2 separate regions of the Homo sapiens genome follow, and region 1 is linked to region 2. The links come from fine-mapping of genetic effects on plasma protein levels. A gene starts in region 2. The other region holds a variant in brackets. All regions are shown on one strand. Distances are between the middles of the regions. Region 1 has its middle 31 kb from the start of CDH3. Region 2 holds the start of LCAT (lecithin-cholesterol acyltransferase).

Evidence for each region. PIP is the chance, under the fine-mapping model, that this variant and not a neighbour inherited with it causes the effect. Protein levels are from antibody-based Olink assays in UK Biobank. Linkage for the fine-mapping came from a reference panel and not from the study's own genotypes, which makes the PIPs less certain.
Region 1: its variant is fine-mapped to the plasma level of the LCAT protein (UK Biobank, PIP 0.97).

The regions. Positions count from the first base shown.
Region 1 is chr16:68,610,471-68,618,986 of GRCh38, forward strand. No RefSeq gene overlaps it. Among named protein-coding and RNA genes, the nearest start is that of CDH3, 31 kb to the right of the region's middle. The variant C/T (reference allele first, on the strand shown) is at 4,040.
Region 2 is chr16:67,943,410-67,951,481 of GRCh38, forward strand. It overlaps LCAT (lecithin-cholesterol acyltransferase), which reads right to left and starts at 711. Exons shown (of 6, transcript NM_000229.2): 1 at 539-711. The coding sequence starts at 692. It overlaps SLC12A4 (solute carrier family 12 member 4), which reads right to left. Exons shown (of 24, transcript NM_005072.5): 9 at 7,731-7,895; 10 at 7,553-7,651; 11 at 7,245-7,302; 12 at 6,910-7,084; 13 at 6,391-6,509; 14 at 4,652-4,750; 15 at 4,260-4,379; 16 at 3,922-4,026; 17 at 3,528-3,696; 18 at 3,029-3,224; 19 at 2,762-2,931; 20 at 2,542-2,673; 21 at 2,355-2,462; 22 at 1,960-2,144; 2 more. The coding sequence ends at 1,431.

The DNA of each region.
Region 1 (8,516 bases), 670 kb after region 2:
TGAGCCCAAGAGTTTGGGCCTGTAGTGAGCCAGGATTGCACTGTGATTGCACGACTGCACTCCAGCCTGGGTGACAGAGTAAGACCCTGTCTCAAAAAATAAAATTAAAAAATAAAAGGCAAAAAATAAAAAAGATTAAAATAAAAAGAAAATGTCTATGCATCTGTCTGTCTCTCCACTAGTTAGTGGAGGGGACTGAATCTTACTCATTGCCAAATCCCCATCCCTAAGTCAAGCCTGAGGTGGGCACACTGGGAGCACTTGGGAGGTGGTTGTTTTTTGTTTTTTTGAGACGGAGTTTCACTCTTGTTGCCCAGGCTGGAGTGCAATGGCATAATCTCAGCTCACTGCAACCTCCGCCTCCTGGGCTCAAGTGATTCTCCTGCCTCAGCCTCCCAAGTAGCTGGGATTACAAGCGTGCGCCACCACACCTGGCTAATTTTTGTATTTTTAGTAGAGATGGGGTTTCTCCATGTTTGCCAGGCTGGTCTCAAACTCCTGACCTCAGGTGATCCACCCGCCTCAGCCTCCCAAAGTGCTGGGATTACAGGTGTGAGCCACCGCGTCCTACCGGGAGGTGGTTGTTAATTGGACTAGGTTTGGTTCAGTTCAGGAAAGCCTTCATCACCAGGCTAAAGAATCTGGACTCAATACCCAAAGACAATGGGGACCATCGAAGATTGTTGAACACGAGGAGTTCATCATCTGAGAAGCGTTTTAGCAAAATTAAGCTGAGCAAGCAGCAGTGAGAAGGAGGATGTTTTGAAGAGGAGGTAAACTGAAGGTGGGACAGGGAAACGAACTAGTCATTGCAAGGACAGTTAAGAAGTTGTTGCAAGGCCAGGCACGGTGGCTCATGCCTATAATCTCAGCACTTTGGGAGGCTGAAGCGGGAGGCTCACTTGCACCCAGGAGTTCAGAATCAGCCTGGGCAACATGGCAAAATTCTGTCCCTACAAAAAATACAAAAAAGGCCGGGCGCAGTGGCTCAAGCCTGTAATCCCAGCACTTTGGGAGGCGGAGGCAGGCGGATCACCTGAGGTCAGGAGTTCGAGACCAGCCTGACCAATATGGAGAAACCCCATCTCTACTAAAAACACAAAATTAGCCGGGCGCGGTGGTGCATGCCTGTAATCCCAGCTACTTGGGAAGCTGAGGCAGGAGAATCGCTTGAACCTGAGAGGCGGAAGTTGCAGTGAGCCGAGATGGCGCCACTGCACTCCAGCCTAGGCAACAAGAACGAAACTCTGTCTCAAAAAAAAAAAAAATCCCAAAAAATTAGCTGGGCATGGTGGCACGCGCCTGTGGTGCCAGCTACACCTACTGAGATGGGAGAATCCCCTGAGCCTGGGAGGTCAAGGCAGCAGTGAGCTGAGATTGAATCACTGCACTCTAGCCTGGGTGATGGAAGTAAGACCCTGTCTCAAAAAAAAAAAAAAAAAAAAGAAAGAAAGAAGCTGTGGCAGAAATGAAGCAAGAACGTAGGGTTAGATCATGAAAGAAAGGACTAGAAAGGAAAGTATCAACTTGGGCCACATATCTATTTTGTTGTTGTTGGGTTTTCTTTTTCTTTTCTCAAATATCTGTGTTTTATACATGGGCTGTGACCTCACTTTTATAAAACCATGTATTATTAGTATTGTGTGTGTTTTAAAATATAATCTATGTGGTCTTGTAAGTCACAAGGCTTGACACTAGTTAGCTGAAGAGGCTTCTGGGGAAGTGTTGGGGTATATGTGTGCATGTTTTGTTTTTAATAAAACCATGTGGTTTTTTAAATATTTATTTATTTATTTATTTATTTATTTTGAGACAGAGTCTCACTCTGTCCCCCAAGCTGGAGTGCAGTGGCAGGATCTTGGCTCACTGCAACTTCTGCCTCCCGGATTCAAGCGATTCTCCTGCCTCAGCCTCCTGAATAGCTAGGATTACAGATGCATGCCACCATGCCCAGCTAATTTTTGTATTTTTAGTAGAGACAGGGTTTCACCATGTTGGTCAGGCTGGTCTCGAAATCCTGACCTTGTGATCTGCCCACCTCAGCCTCCCAAAGTGCTGGGATTACAGGCATGAGCCACCGTGCCCAGCCTCCATGTATTATTTTTAATCCTCACAAAAACCTTGTGAGGTAGGATATTGTTAGCTCTCCCTTACAGGTGAAGAAACCGAGGCTGAGAGAGAATTGGAAGCACTTGCTCAGGGTCATAGCCGGTACTTTACGACTCCAGCATGTCTTCCCCAGGTACCCTGAAGGAATAATTCAGTGGGCATCATGATTAATTGGATTGGGACAGGAGGAGGAGAAGAGGAGAGGATCAAAAATGACCAGAACACTTCCAGCTTGACCAAGTGGAAAATAATCAGCAGGTCAGGAGGGAGTGCTGGGTTGATGGGGGAATGTTTAAGCCAAAGGAGTGAATACCTAATGGCAAAATTTGGTGCATCAGATTGGGGTTTATGGGAAAGCCCATAAGTGCTCTCCTTGTTGGCTGGCCTTGCCACTGACACCTGAAGCCTGCTAGCAACTGAACAATTTCAAGAGAAAAAAAAAAATCAACCCCATACTTTCTGGCGAATGGTGTGTTCCTTTGAGTACTTGGGTCTTTTTCTACATCAGCAGCTTGGCAGCTTGTACTATCTGTGGCTCTGACTATGCAGCCTGATTGATTGACCAGGCTTAAAAGGCCTGTTCTTGAATTTGAGATCTCAGGCTTCCAGTCCCTATAGATCATCAACAAAGACCAAAAGGCCTGGCATGAACCCGAGGTTATTATTCACTGGAGAAGACATTATAAACCACAGGAACATAAAGCCCAGCAGGCAGGAATGACCGCCCAGCTCACTAGGCACACAGTGTCCTCACTCCTCCATCCAGCATGATTCATAATTAAATCTTCAGGCAGGAGGCAAACTAGAATTTTGTGTAAACTGGCATTGGAGAGACACTTTGAGTGTAGTTTAATTTCAAAGTTCTAGACCTCCAGAATTTGACATGCTTGTGACATTTCAAGTACAGGCTGTCCCTCCCTACCCCTCACTGGGACTATATCCTGGGGAGAAATGACCCAAAGGGAAAAAAATTGTGGGATCACTAGCTAAACTCTAGGTTTAGAAAACTGTACCATTATACAGACTCCATGTATGTTACATATATCATGGTGGAAACTAAAAGACCATCTGTGGACAAAAGACATACAGAATTCATACATAAAAAAGACATTTAAATGGCATTTATTCATATTACAGGGTCACCATGCTGCACAACTCCAGGGGGCAGCACTCCCATTGGATTCTATTCACAGAGATATATTTTTTGATGATTTGTAAGATAAGATACTCAACCTCTCATAATAAGAGAAATGTTAATTAAAACAATAAGGTACTGTTTTCCATGTTTTGGATTAGCAAATCAAAGAGTTGACAGGATCCCATGTTGGTGGTAGTGTAATTTGGTACCCCTTTTATGGAGGGTGTAGAGAGTACTGTGGACTGGCTCTCTCAATCTGACTCATTCCACCCTCTTCTAGGTGGAGACATTGGAAAGCTAAACCTACACGTCCCAGACTCCCTTGCAGCTAGAGTTTTGGATAGAAATTAGGTCCTACTAGTTAGAAGAATTAATGAGACACGGGGTAGGTGATGGAAAGACAAAGGCCATTTTCTCTGTACTTTTGGCTATCTCTGCTGTCAAGGAGGGTTGTGGAGACCTGAGATTTTTCTGCAGCATATTCAGAGTCCATTATCTGGCATCCTAGGTGTCAGTAGTGACATTTTGATCCTAACTTCTGGCTGCAGTTCCAGTAGTGATCGCAGAGGAGTGGCTTCCCCAGAAAGTTACCTGTGTATTGACCTCTTGGAGGCCCAGGCCAAAGCCCCTCCTACAGTCATTTCAGCAATTTTGTGAACACCTAATTTCCTCCATTAAATCTCCTGCTTGAACTACCTAAAGTGGTTTCCGGTTCTTGCACAAAACCCCAGTTGCTATAGAGCATAACTTAAATAAATCTATAAAAGTTGAAAGTGCAAATATGAGGCCAGG[C/T]ATGGTGGCTGACGCTGTAATCCCAGCACTTTGAGAGGCTGAGGAGGGAGGATCCCTGGAGCCCAGGAGTTCAAGACCAACCTGAGTAACATAGTGAGACCCCGTCCTACAAAATATCAAAAAAATTAGCTGGGCATGGTGATGCATGCCTGTAGTCCCAGCTACTCAGGTGGTTGAGGCAGGAGAATTGCTTGAGCCCAGAAGGTCAAGGCTGCAATGAGCCGTGGCTGTGCCACTGCACTCCAGCCTGGGTGACAGAGTGAGACTGTGTCTCAAAAAACAAACAAACAAATGCAAAGAAAATGCAAATAAAATATGCCTCTTAGCTAGTACTTCTACTCCTAGGAATGTATCTAACAGATATGTTTTTACATGTGTGAAATAATTTATGCACAAGGATATTCACTGCACCATTGTTTACAGTAGTAGAAGATCAGAAATGAGCCAAATGTTCATCAGTAGGAGATCAGCTAAATAAATCAGGGAGATCCATTTCAGTGGAATACTATGCAGCAGTTTAAAAAAAAAAGGAAGAAAAATAATCAGAGAGCTTGCTATATACTCATAGAGAACAACCTCTAAATTATATAAAGTGAAAGTAAGGTCCAGAACACTATGTCAAAAAATGGAAAGAAGGGCTGGCCATGGTGGTTCACACCTGTAATCCCAGCACTTTGGGAGGCCAAGGCAGGTGGATCACCTGAGGTCAGGAGTTCGAGACCAGCCTGGCCAACATGGTGAAACACCATCTTTACTAAAAATACAAAAAATTAGCTGGGTATGGTGGCATACACCTGTAATCCCAGCTACTCGGGAGGCTGAGGCAGAAGAATTGCTTGAACCTGGGAGGTGGGGGTTGCAGTGAGCCAAGATCGCACCACTGTACTCCAGCCTGGGCAACAGAGTGAGACTCCATCTCAGAAAAAAGAAAAAAAAATCAATACATTCTCTTTTTTTTTTTTTTTTTTTTTTTTTTTTTTAGAGCTGGAGTGCAGTGGCACCATCACGGTTCACTGCAGCCTCAACCTCGAGGGCTCAAGCAATTTTCCCACCTCAGCCACTTGGGACCACAGGCATGTGCCACCACACCAGCTAATTTTTGTATTTTTTATAGAGACAGTGTTTTGCTATGTTACCCAGGCTGGTCTTGAACTCCTGGGCTCAAGCCATCTGCCTGACTCAGCCTCCCTAAGCGCTGGGATTACAGGTGTGAGCCACCACACCTGGCCAATAAAATTTTATTAAAATAAAATAAAATAACCTGCATTTCCCCACAATTTAGAGAATCTCAGAGAGTCCTTTCCTTTCCATTTCCTCTCTCTCTTGTTGTCTCCCCCATGAGAATCAGCTAAGGGACTTAGGCAGGGTTGTGGCTCAAGCTGATCTCTTGTGACAAAAGTTCTTTCTCCTGAAGCCTCTGTGACATGATAGGAAGAGGTCCCAGCAAATCCCACAGAACTGGTCAGTGAGAGAGCCCCCAATCCTGGCCTCTCTTTTCTACTCAGCTCGTTGCTTCAATAATCCCTGCCCCTTTCTCCTGCATCGTTGATCTTCTTCGCCCTTTGGATCTTCCCATCAGCCTTCAGTCATCCTTAAATTATCAACGTTAAAAAAAAACAAATACCCCCGGTTGGGCACGGTGGCTCATGCCCATAATCCCAGCACTTTGGGAGGCTGAGGCTGGCGGATCACGAGGTCAGGAGATAGAGGCCATCCTGGCTAACACGGTGAAACCCCATCTCTACTAAAAATATAAAAAAATAGCCGGGCATGGTGGCAGGCACCTGTAGTCCCAGCTACTTGTGAGGCTGAGGCAAGAGAATCGCTTGAACCTGGGAGGTCGAGGCTGCAGTGAGCTGAGATGGCACCACTGTACTCCAGCCTTGGTGACAGACCGAGACTCTGTCTTAAAATTAAAAACAAACAAACAGAAAGCCCAAATAGCTATCATAGGGATGGATAGTGTACCAGCCAGGCTTTCTCAGGCCCGAAGGCAGAATCTTGTCTGTCCAGATGACTCTGAGCAACGCTGAGGGTTTATCAGACAGGGAGGTGCTGAGAGCCAGAAACTGTTCCCCAGGGCAGGATGGCCAGGGAGGGTGGAGAGCGGAGCTCCACCTCAGCATCACCTGGGGACATCGGAGCACAGCTTCCTGCCTTCTCCTTACTTAGCTGGTGTTTGTGCCTCCTGGGAGAGGCACCAGTGAGGCTGCTCCTGGTCTCTCCAGCCACATCTGGTTCTGAGAGGTCTCAGCCTACTGCCTGGGCTGCTATGTTGTGCCACAGGCCCCCATCCCCCCGGACCATGGTTGACTGACCTAAGAGTGGACAGTAGACCCAGAAAGACACCGATTCTTCGGCTGGGCTGAGGCAGTCAGGCTCTTTGTCCTGGAAATGTGGGACAGAGATGAAAGCAGTTAGAAGAAAGTTGAAAGGCAAGGTTGTATTGTGTTGGGGCTGTGGAGGGGCTGTGGAGGCCATGTCAGGTCAGGTGAGGAGGAAGAAGATGGCTTCGAGAGAAAGGGAAGGGCAGGGAGAGGCAGAAATGAGAAAGCCTGGTGGCCCAGAGAGCACAACCTTGGTTCTTGACTTTCTGGATCCAGTTCCTGATAGCCAGCCTTATCATTCCTCTTCTATCGCTGGATGCCCTGGAGTAAATCCCTCTTCATGTGAGCTGACTGTAGGTCCCAGGTCATCAGACTGGACCACCCTCCTCCCTCCTTAAGGCAGACAGCTACAGAACCTGAGTCACTCTTCCCTGTTCCTTGATGATTTCACATTTTCTCCAACACTAAGAATCATAATCACTTCAATACCAACAAAGAGGAGGACCCTTGAGAACATTATGCTAGTGAGAAGTTACAACTATCGTTCCGATAGCTGTAACCCCATAATCCTGATTTCAAGCATCCTGCTCGATAATCACTACCTCTACCTCCAGCCCGCTTTTCAAGTATTCCATCTCCAGTAATTCTTTGACTCCTTTTGGACCCACAATCCATTGATTCTACCACCTTTCCATCATCTCTTACACTTGACATTGCCTCACTTCCGTCTTTGCGTCTGACATTCCATGGTCCATCATTACAGTCACTCCTTTATATACATCCTCAACTTCTTTGCCCCTTTTCTGTAGTCACCCAGAAAAACACCGTTAATTCCAACTCTTCTACTCTACAGCTGTACCCGTGCAGCTGAACAGGCTGGGGAAAACTCACAACCACAGGGACTTATTTCAAATGCGTGACCATTAACTTCAAGTGGACCCCCGGGATTGCTTGGCAACCTTACCATCTTACCACCTTTCTCAGGCCATTCACTCTCCCACACTCCTAGAGATTATTTCGTGCCTTCTCTCTCTTCTCGTGCACAACCCGTCCTCCTGTGTGCTCACCCTCAGCCAATGATTTCATCACAAGAGAACTTCCATAAGCTCCCACACCCACACGCACCCTGCATCTGTGAACATGTGTGTGCCCCACCTTCCTTCCTTCCACAGCTTTTTTTTTTTTTTTTTTTTTTTTGAGGCAGAATCTTGCTCTGTTGCCTAGGCTGGAATGCAATGGTGCAATCTCAGCTCACTGCAACCTCTGCCTCCCAGGTTCAAGCGATTCATCTGCCTCAGCCTCCCAGGTAGCTGGGATTACAGGCTTGCGTCACCACGCCCAGCTAATTTTTGTATTTTTGGTAGAGACAGGGGTTTCACCATGTTGCCCAGGCTGGTCTCGAACTCCTGGCCTCAGGTGATCTGTCCGCCTCGGCCTCCCAAAGTGCTGGGATTATAGGCGTGAGCCACGGTGCCCAGCCTCTTTCCACAGCTCTGCATGCGATGTTTGTTTGTTTGTTGTTGTTGTTGTTGTTGTTTGTCATTTGACAAGGTCTCACTCTGTCACCCAGGCTAGGGTGCAGTGGCACAACCATGGTTCACTGCAACTTCGACCTCCCAGGCTCAAGTGATCCTCCCACCTCAGACTTCCAAAGTGCTGGGAATGCAGCCGTGAGCCACTGAAGCAGATCCCCTGTGCCCCTTTTTAAAGATCAACCCAGGTCAGGCGCGGTGGCTTACGCCTGTAATCCCAGCACTTTGGGAGGCCGAGGCGGGCAGATCACTTGAGGTCAGGAGTTCGAGATCAGCCTGACCAACATGGAGAAACCCCGTCTCTACTAAAAATTAGCCTGGCATGGTGGTGCATGCCTGTAATTCCAGCTACTCAGGAGGCTGAGGCAGGAGAATCGCTTGAACCCGGGAGGCGGAGGTTGCGGTGAGCCCAGATCATGCCATTGCACTCCAGCCTGGGCAACAAGAGCGAAACTCCATCTCAAAAAAATAAATAAATAAAAATAAAAAATAAATAAAAAATAAAAAAAAGATCAATCCATCACTTAGCAGTAGATCTTAGCCCCTTTTTTCCACTCAGCCAATTGCTTCAAAAATCCCTCCCTCTTTCTCCCGTATCCTCAGTCTCCTCCACCCATT
Region 2 (8,072 bases):
AGGAAGGGAAGGCGCTGAGGTGCTGAGGCCAAGGCCGCTGACCCCTGCCTCTGCAGAGCAAACACCCAGTCTGGCGCTCCTTTATTGCCAAAGTCCAAGGTGGGAACAGATAGGTCTGGGGGCATGGGGGCTGGGCCTAATAGGGGCCGGGCATGGATGGGCCTCTCCTGCTCACCGATCCTGGGCTGGGCATCTTGTCCTTGGTGGGTGGGGGCCAAGGAAGGAGTGGTGGGGCTTGGCCCAGAGTCTGGTGTGGCTGTGACTGACCACAGCTTGTGATGCCCCAGCCAAGACCTCAGGCACACCCCGTCCCCCACTCCGCCCCCCCTGGGTTAGACAACTGAGAGTCACAGTGTGGTGGGAGAAGGGACGTCATTCCTCTAAGGGACAAGCTTTTGGCCCCTCCCCACACCAGGGCAGGTACTTATGTCGGGGCTTATGCAGGGCAGAAGGGCTTTGGCCAGGTCAGCTGCCAGGGGCTGGGGCCCAGGCTCCCCAGGGTCTGGCGTGGTGCATCAGGGGCCTGGTGGGGGCTTACCGAGGATGACGGGCCGTGTGTGGTTACTGAGCTCAGCCTTGGGCGTGGTGTGCGGGGGGAAGAGCACATTGAGGAGCCAGAAGGGGGCGGCAGGAGGGAGCAGCAGCCCCAGCAGCAGCGTCACCCACTGCCATGGGGAGCCGGGCGGCCCCATTCCAGCCCTGGTGCCTACTGCCAGAGAAAGCGGCACTGGGCTGTCCTTATCTGGTGTGGGAGTGGGAGGGGCCCTAGGGCCAGTGGGAGGGACGGCCTGGCCAGTGGGGGTTGTGGCCAGAGATTGCCGGAAAGGGGCACAGCCTCAGGGAGCCGGCTCTGGGCCTGGGTTCAGTTCCGCCTTCTTCTCTTGGCGCCAGGGGAAACAGAGCCGGGGCAGCAGGAGGCCCAGAACTACACAATGTTTTATTGAAAAAGTCAGGCCTCAGCTCAGCTGTCTCCATTCGGCTCAGCTTGGTGGGGGGCCCTGCCCATAGTAGACTGAGCCAGATCTTCCTGCAGGCAGCTGGGCTGGACTCCCTCCCTGGCTACCCTTCCCTTCGTCTCTGATGGTGACATCCAAACAATAAATATGCAATAAATAGCGCTCCTGGGCTGGGCCGGGCCGGCTGCCTTCAAACCCCACTCGGCCCCTACCAGTCTTCTCTGGCCAGGACAGGCCTACTGGGGTGCTAGATAGTAAAGTCCCCAAACATCCCAGGGTCCCACAAGACCTGGGATCCATCTCCATTTTGAGGCCCAGGCCTGGTTTCCAAGGAGACCTAGCAAAGCTGGGTCCAGGACAGGGCCAGGCAAGCAGGGCTGGCAGGTGGGTGCTGGGAAGAGGCTGTTACCCCAGACCACAGCTTGTTATGTCCTGGCCAAGACCTCGACTCCAGGCCACAAGATGACACTGGGCTCAGGAGTAGATGGTGATGACTTCACGGCCACCACCGCGCACCAACAGCACCCGCTCAAGGCCCTCGGTCAGCACCTCGAGGAACTCCATGTCTGCAGGGCCTCAAGTCAAGGAGGCAACAACAGAATCAACGGGCAACCCGGGCCACCTGGGCCATGCCCACCCAGGGGTGCCCAGGAGAGAAGCCGCTGGCTTGACCTCCCATGCTATCCACCTCCCAACTGCCTGCCTCTCCACAAAGGGATACAGTTCTCGTCGCCCTCACTGTTCCTGGGTGGGCCAGGCATGTTTAGGAGAACCAGGCGGGCGTCGTGGGAGCGCGTGACAATGACTTCATTGAGCTTCACAGCAGTGTGCATGCGCCGCACATTGGATTGGTCCCTACACGTAGTGTAGCCAGTCACAGGTCGCCATGAGCCATCCTGCAAGGAGGGTCCCCACCCCTGGCCCATCTAACACTACTTGTCTGCCCCACCCCACCTCCACCCCTAGATTCCAGTGCCGCTGGGGCTGTTTTTGCTGCACTCACGGCTTAATGTGCACCAGCTCCCGGAAATTGTCAGGGGCATGGCTGGGGTCCCAGGTCTCAGTCATGTACTTGTCCCTGGTCCACGTCATCTGGATCTTGTCAGCCCCCACTGCAGACTCATCTTCCTCGTCCGAGTACAGGCTCTCCAGCCGCAGGGCCGAGTGCCGATCCTTGACCAGCTGGGCCTGAGGACAATTGCAGGAGATAGCCTTGGTCCCATAGGAAAAGGGGGATGGGGCCTGTCTGGCCCAATGTGACCACCTTGCCTCCGGGAAATGAGCACTAGCTTGGGTAGGGCTGCGGTGAGTCATTCTGATTCCTCCGCACCCACCGATGCGGTCTCCAAAGGCCTGACCCTGCCACCCGCCCTGGCGTGAACCACAAAGGGCACTGACTTCTCGCTCCCGCTCAGTCTTGGTCAGTCTCATCTGCCGCAGCATCTGCGACCGCTGCTCCATCATCAGCGTCCGCTCGTAGGTGTATGCAGAGATGTCACTGTTATGCTGGGGACAGGGTTGGCCGTGAGGACCCAGCTGCACGGGACATGGTATCCACGGGGCCAGGGCAGGGCAGAGGGCTCACCATCTCCACCACCTCCACCTCGGCCTCAAGGCGCAGATGGTACAGAAAGACAGCCAGGTCCTTCTTCATCTGGATGCTGTTGTCATCCATCTGGGCCACTGTGAAGATGCGCATCCGGCACTTCCTCCAGACCTGAGGCAAGGGACCAGGTGGGCGGTTTGGTCACAGCTGCTCCTCCAAGGGCCTAGCCCCTCTCATCTGCACCCACCCCCTGGTCTACCTTATGCTGGCGCAGCAGGAAGGGCAGAAGCATGAGCATGCCACCATCGTGCACGATCCACCACACGTCTATGTGGCCCTCCAGGTAGCGCTCGTGGTTGCTGGGGTAGAAGGCGATGTTCTTGGGCACGAGCAGGGCCAGGTGGGCAGCCGTAGTGCAGCGCACGGTGTCTGGGGAGGAGGAGCACGGCTGACCACCAGTCTGTGGCCCTCCGCCCACTGCCACCTCACTTCACCCCTGCCCACCAGGCCCCAGGCCTTCACACACCAATGAAGGTCTTCCAGGCACGGGGGTCCTCGCTCTGTCGCCAGCCGTAGGGCCAGCCCAGCACCACGGAGTTATGCCGCATGCCTCCCAGGCCACAGGACTGGATGAGGTGGGCCAGCCCCTCCCGCACCTTGCTGGCCACCACCACCTGGCAGAAGCCCTTCACCTTCTCAATTTCCATCATGTTCTTGATGGTCTGTGGGGAACACACCCAGGGCCAATGGGAGGCCATCAGCTTCCTGCCTCTGGGCTCCCTCCCAAGGCCCCTCGGGAACAAAACGACTTTTGGGTGGAGGAGGGCCTGGGGGCAACAAGCTGCCTACCCAGAGGCCAAGTTTTCAAGATGGGACTGCTGGCTCCCCCTTGTGCCAGCTCTCAGGTGGCAGCAGTGCTGGCTGCCTGGCTGGCCACCCTGGCCAAGACTGGGCCCTCCCCTCCGTGCCAGCTGCAGTCCAGACCCCTGTAGTCTGGCTCAGCTCTCCCTCCCCAAAGCAAGTACCTGCTCGGCGGCCTGAGCCTCGCCATAGCTCTCCAAGAAGCTCCCCTGGATGACAGAACCAACAATGGTCAGGCCCTTGCCAGCCTTGAGCTGGGAGGCGAAGGTGAGGAGCCGCGGGTACTTCACGTGGAGGTCCTCGTCCAGCTTCAGCAGCACCAGCAGCTGCGGCCTGCAGTGGCCGGGTGGGGGGAGCCTGAGACCAGGGCCGGCCGTTCTAGGGAGCCCCTCCTCTTCTTCCCTTCTCGGGTCGTGGTCCCTGCAGGTTTGGGTAGCATGGCCCAGGAGGGTGCCCCGGGCAGCCCCAGGATGGGGAGCCGGCACCTCTCGACCCTCTGACCCCGACAGCGACCCCTAAGAACCTCTGCGCCCTGGCCAGGGTCTGGCGGGAACTCACCGCCAGTTCTTGGTGTGAGGAGGCCCCTCCTCCAGCCGCAACAGCGCGTAGCGGGCAGCGCTCAGGGACAGGCCTCGGATCCCGTCACCCCACTCCTTCTCAGCCCTGCAGATTCCACCACAGCTGGTGAGCCCCTGGTGCCGCCCAGGGGGTTCTGTCTATGTGGATGCGAGGTGGAGGGGTTCTGCCCCTCAAGACCACCCAGGGGTCCTGAGTTACAGTCCCCAGTCCTGGCACCCACGGTGGCCCAGCTCCCTGCCCACCCCAATGCCAGACCACCCTGCCTGCTCGGCCGGGCCCCCTCAGCTGGCAGAGGCCAGGTGGCAGTGCTCACTCACCCTTGGTACTCGATGTATTTGTAGATCATGCCGGCGATGAGCATGGCCACCAGGGCATAGTACCAGGAGGAGACAAACATAAGGGCCAGGCAGAGACTCATGCCCAGGAAGGACAGCGCCCTGGACGAGAGGGGAGGGCAGAGTCAGGGCAGGACCAGGAGGACCCCTGGCCACAGCCTGGCCCATGCCCTGGTAGCCCTGTCAGGTCCCGGGTGGGAGGTCCCAGGTGGGTGGTCAGGTCACTGGGTGTAAGACCTAGGTCCAGTCCCCCGCAGCCCTATAATCTCCCTCCCCACAGTGTTTCAAGAGCTCCCTACCCAGGAAACCCAAGCCTCACCCAGAATGAGGCTCCTGGCCTCCCCAGGGTCTCCCGTGTCAGAGGCATGGCTCACCAGTGATAGTACTTGAACCGGGGCCGCCAGTTGGGGGTCCTCAGGAGTGTCTGCACCGCACAGGCGAGGTTCACGAACAGGTAGCACATCAGAAAGAACCTGCGGCACAGAGGGCGGTTGGCGAAGAGCAGCCTCCTCGGCAGCTGGGGACCTGATGTCAGGCTGGGCCTGGCCCAGAAACGGGGCGTGGCCCGGCCCTGCCCTGCATGGCTCAGCAAGGTCTTCTCAACCTCATTGCTGCCACCTCCATGGCCTGAGGCAATGAGACTACTGTGGAGGAGTCCTCGGAGCCAGATCGCAGAGGATGGGCAAGGGTTTGCTGTTGGAGGAGGTAGGAAGGGGAGTAACAGGGCAGAGCTGAAGAGGGTGGTGCAGGGGCAGCAGGAAGAGCTCAGTGCCTGGAGACTCTAGGCCACATTCAGGCCTCTGGCCTGAGTGACCAGCTGGATGAGAGGCTGCCATGCATGAAGGGGAGGATGGAAGATAAGCTGGACCATTTGAATGCAACCAGTCAGAGATACTTAAGAGTCACTGCGGTGGGCGTGGGAGTCCCACGCATGGGCAGGGCCAGCTGCATGAGCCCTCCAGGAAGGCACCCGAGGACGGGTGCGCAGGAAGGCAGGAGGACCCACACAGGGCATGCCAGGGGGCAGGGGCTCCCAGCAGGAGGCCCGAGATAAAGGCTGAGATGTAGCCTCTGATTTGGGCACAAGGGGGGTCACCACCCAAGATGGCTGTGGCAAAACAGTTTCAGGTGTGCTCTTGGGTGAGAGGAAGGGGTGTGGGGGGGTGGACAAGAGGGTGCTGGCTCCAGCAGGCCTGGCTGTAGCTGGGATGGAGCCTGCTCAGGGGTACAGGGCCCCTGTCAAGTCTGCAGGCTGAGTGGGCAGGGAAGAGGAGGCCTTTCATAACCGCACAAGCAAGAAGGAGCGTCAGCCACGGAGCAGGGTGGGCGAGGACCCCAGCCTGGACAGAGTCAACCAAACAAGCGCTGCCTCGGGGTCCCTGGGAGTCACCACATGCTGGCCACTCCCTGCAAGGCACTGGCACGCAGATTTGCCTGGCTGATTCCAGAATGTTAAAAGCAAATGACTTTGAAAATGGATGGGTTGGGCATGGTGGCTCACGCCTGTAATCCCAGCACTTTGGGAGGCCGAGCCAGGTGGATCATCTGACGTCAGGAGTTCGACACCAGCCTGGCCAAGATGGTAAAACGCCATCTCTACTAAAAATACAAAAAATTAGCTGGGCGTGGTGGTGCATTTCTGTAATCCCAGCTACTCAGGAGGCTGAGGCAGGAGAATTGCTTGAACCCAGGAGGCGGAGATTGCAGTGAGCCAAGATCATGCCATTGCACTCCAGCCTGGGTGAGAGAGTGAGACTCTGTCTCAAAAAAAAAAAACAAAAACCAAAAAACAAACTAACAGATGGAAGGGGCAGCAGTGGCTTCATGGAGGCATGAGGGACGCGGTGGTTGCCCTGTCCAGTGGGAAGGTCTGCCGGCCACCTGCTCTGGGGGCCTCAGGGAGGTGTGGACATATTGGTCACCTTATAGCTTTGGCATAGGTGCCAGGCTTGCTCCTAAATGCAGGGGTGGGCTGAGCCCTGTCAGGCCACATCTCCCCATGCAGCCTGCCACATCTCCCAGCTGGACCTCCAACACCAGACGCAGCCACGGGGAGGTGCTGGGGTTCAGGAAGCCTTTCCCCATCCCCCTGCCCTGCCCGGCCCCAGCTCACATGGATAAGATGGGGGCCACCATGTCGAGGGAGGCGATGAGGATGCCCAGCTCGGCGATGAGTGCCGTCAGGAGGAGTGCCCATGTGGGTTCACCATTCACCTTCCCGTGGCCAAACACCTGTGTGCACCAGGAAGGAAGCTGGGTCCTGTCACCCCCATTCCACACCTTGGGCCCCAGACCCCAGCCTGGCCTCCCTCACCCCCAGGGCCCGCCTTGGGGGCTCAGGCCGCCCCTGTGTCTATCCCTATGGGTGTCACCAGTCTCCCTGATTCCACCTCACCAGGCCTCTCTCCTTTGGATGAGCCCTAAACAGGCCATGAAGATTCTGGGTCCAGGCAGCTCCAGGCCCAGGTGAGTGCCAGGCCCAGGGCACTTCTCAGTAGCTCCTCATGGATGGCCGCCTGGCCCCGGGGGCCAATAAGGGCAGGACGTGCTGCATCTGTGTTCCCTATCTCTCTCCCCAGCCGGGCGAGGGCCTGGGAGCAGCCAGGCCATGGGGGAGTGCAGAGGGGCTCACCCGGAGGAAGGGGATGATGTTGTCCTTGGCAATGGCCTGCAATAGGCGTGGTGCCCCTGTGAGGCTCTGGAGGCCAGCGCCACACGTTGAAAAGAAGGAGCCGATGACGATGACCCAGGGTGAAGGCCAGGCCAGTGTGCCCACCACCAAGTTCCTGCTGACACCATCGCCATACCTGCAGGGGCCACCAGAGTGAGGGATGTCAGGGGTCCGGAAGGATGGCACAGACCACCAAAGGCAGCCAGCAGGCTTAGGACCACCCACGGGGTTGGGAGCTGGTGTGAGGGCAGGCCAAAGCCCAGCCGCTGCTAAAGAGGGGGGCCCAGCTCACTCACTTGTCCCGGAGAACCACACCCTCAATGCAGGCACCAAAGAGAACCACACTGCTGAAGTCTGCGGCGGCGTCAAGGAAAACTCGGCCTCTGCCACCCCACTGTCCCTGAATAGTACCACGTGCCCCCACCCCAGCCAGACTACCAGGACACCTACAGCTGGGAGTCTCGTGGTGTGTATGTGCATGTGTGCATGAGAAGGGGAGCTATATATGAGTGTGTGGGGTGTCTGTGCATGTGACCTGGCAACGTACACAGGCCAAGCGCTTCCCGTCCTCTGCCCCACCTGCCCCAGGCCTGGGAAAGGATACACACGAGGGAAGTTGTAATGATGGCCAGAATGGTCCCCACAGGGATAGACTTCTGGGCGTCACGAAGGTCCCCAGAGCGGTTTGAGCCAGCCATGATGCCTCCAAAAACAGATGAGACTCCCTCAGGGGCTCCCCGGGATTGGGGACAGGGCTGGGTGGGTAGGCAGGCAGGGCTCACCTGTTACAGAAGGGAAGAAGATGCCGACCAGCACGGTGAAGGATGTGGCGATGTCAGCGACCACGTACAGAGGCAGGCTCTCCTTCAGGCTCGGGGCATCTGCGGAGGGCAGCCCATGCTTCTCCACGATGTCACCCTTCTCCAGGTAGGCGCTCCACAGGTTTTCTGCAGGGGTAGCTGTGTCACCACCACAGCTGCCCCCCACTACCCCAGGTAGTTTGGGGCAGCCTAGCCAGAGGCGCAGATGCAGGGCAACTTTGGGGACTCAGGGAACAGCTTCAGCCCAATGACTGCAGCGTCAGCCACAGGGCTACCCTGACCACAGAGAAGGAGCTGCCCAGC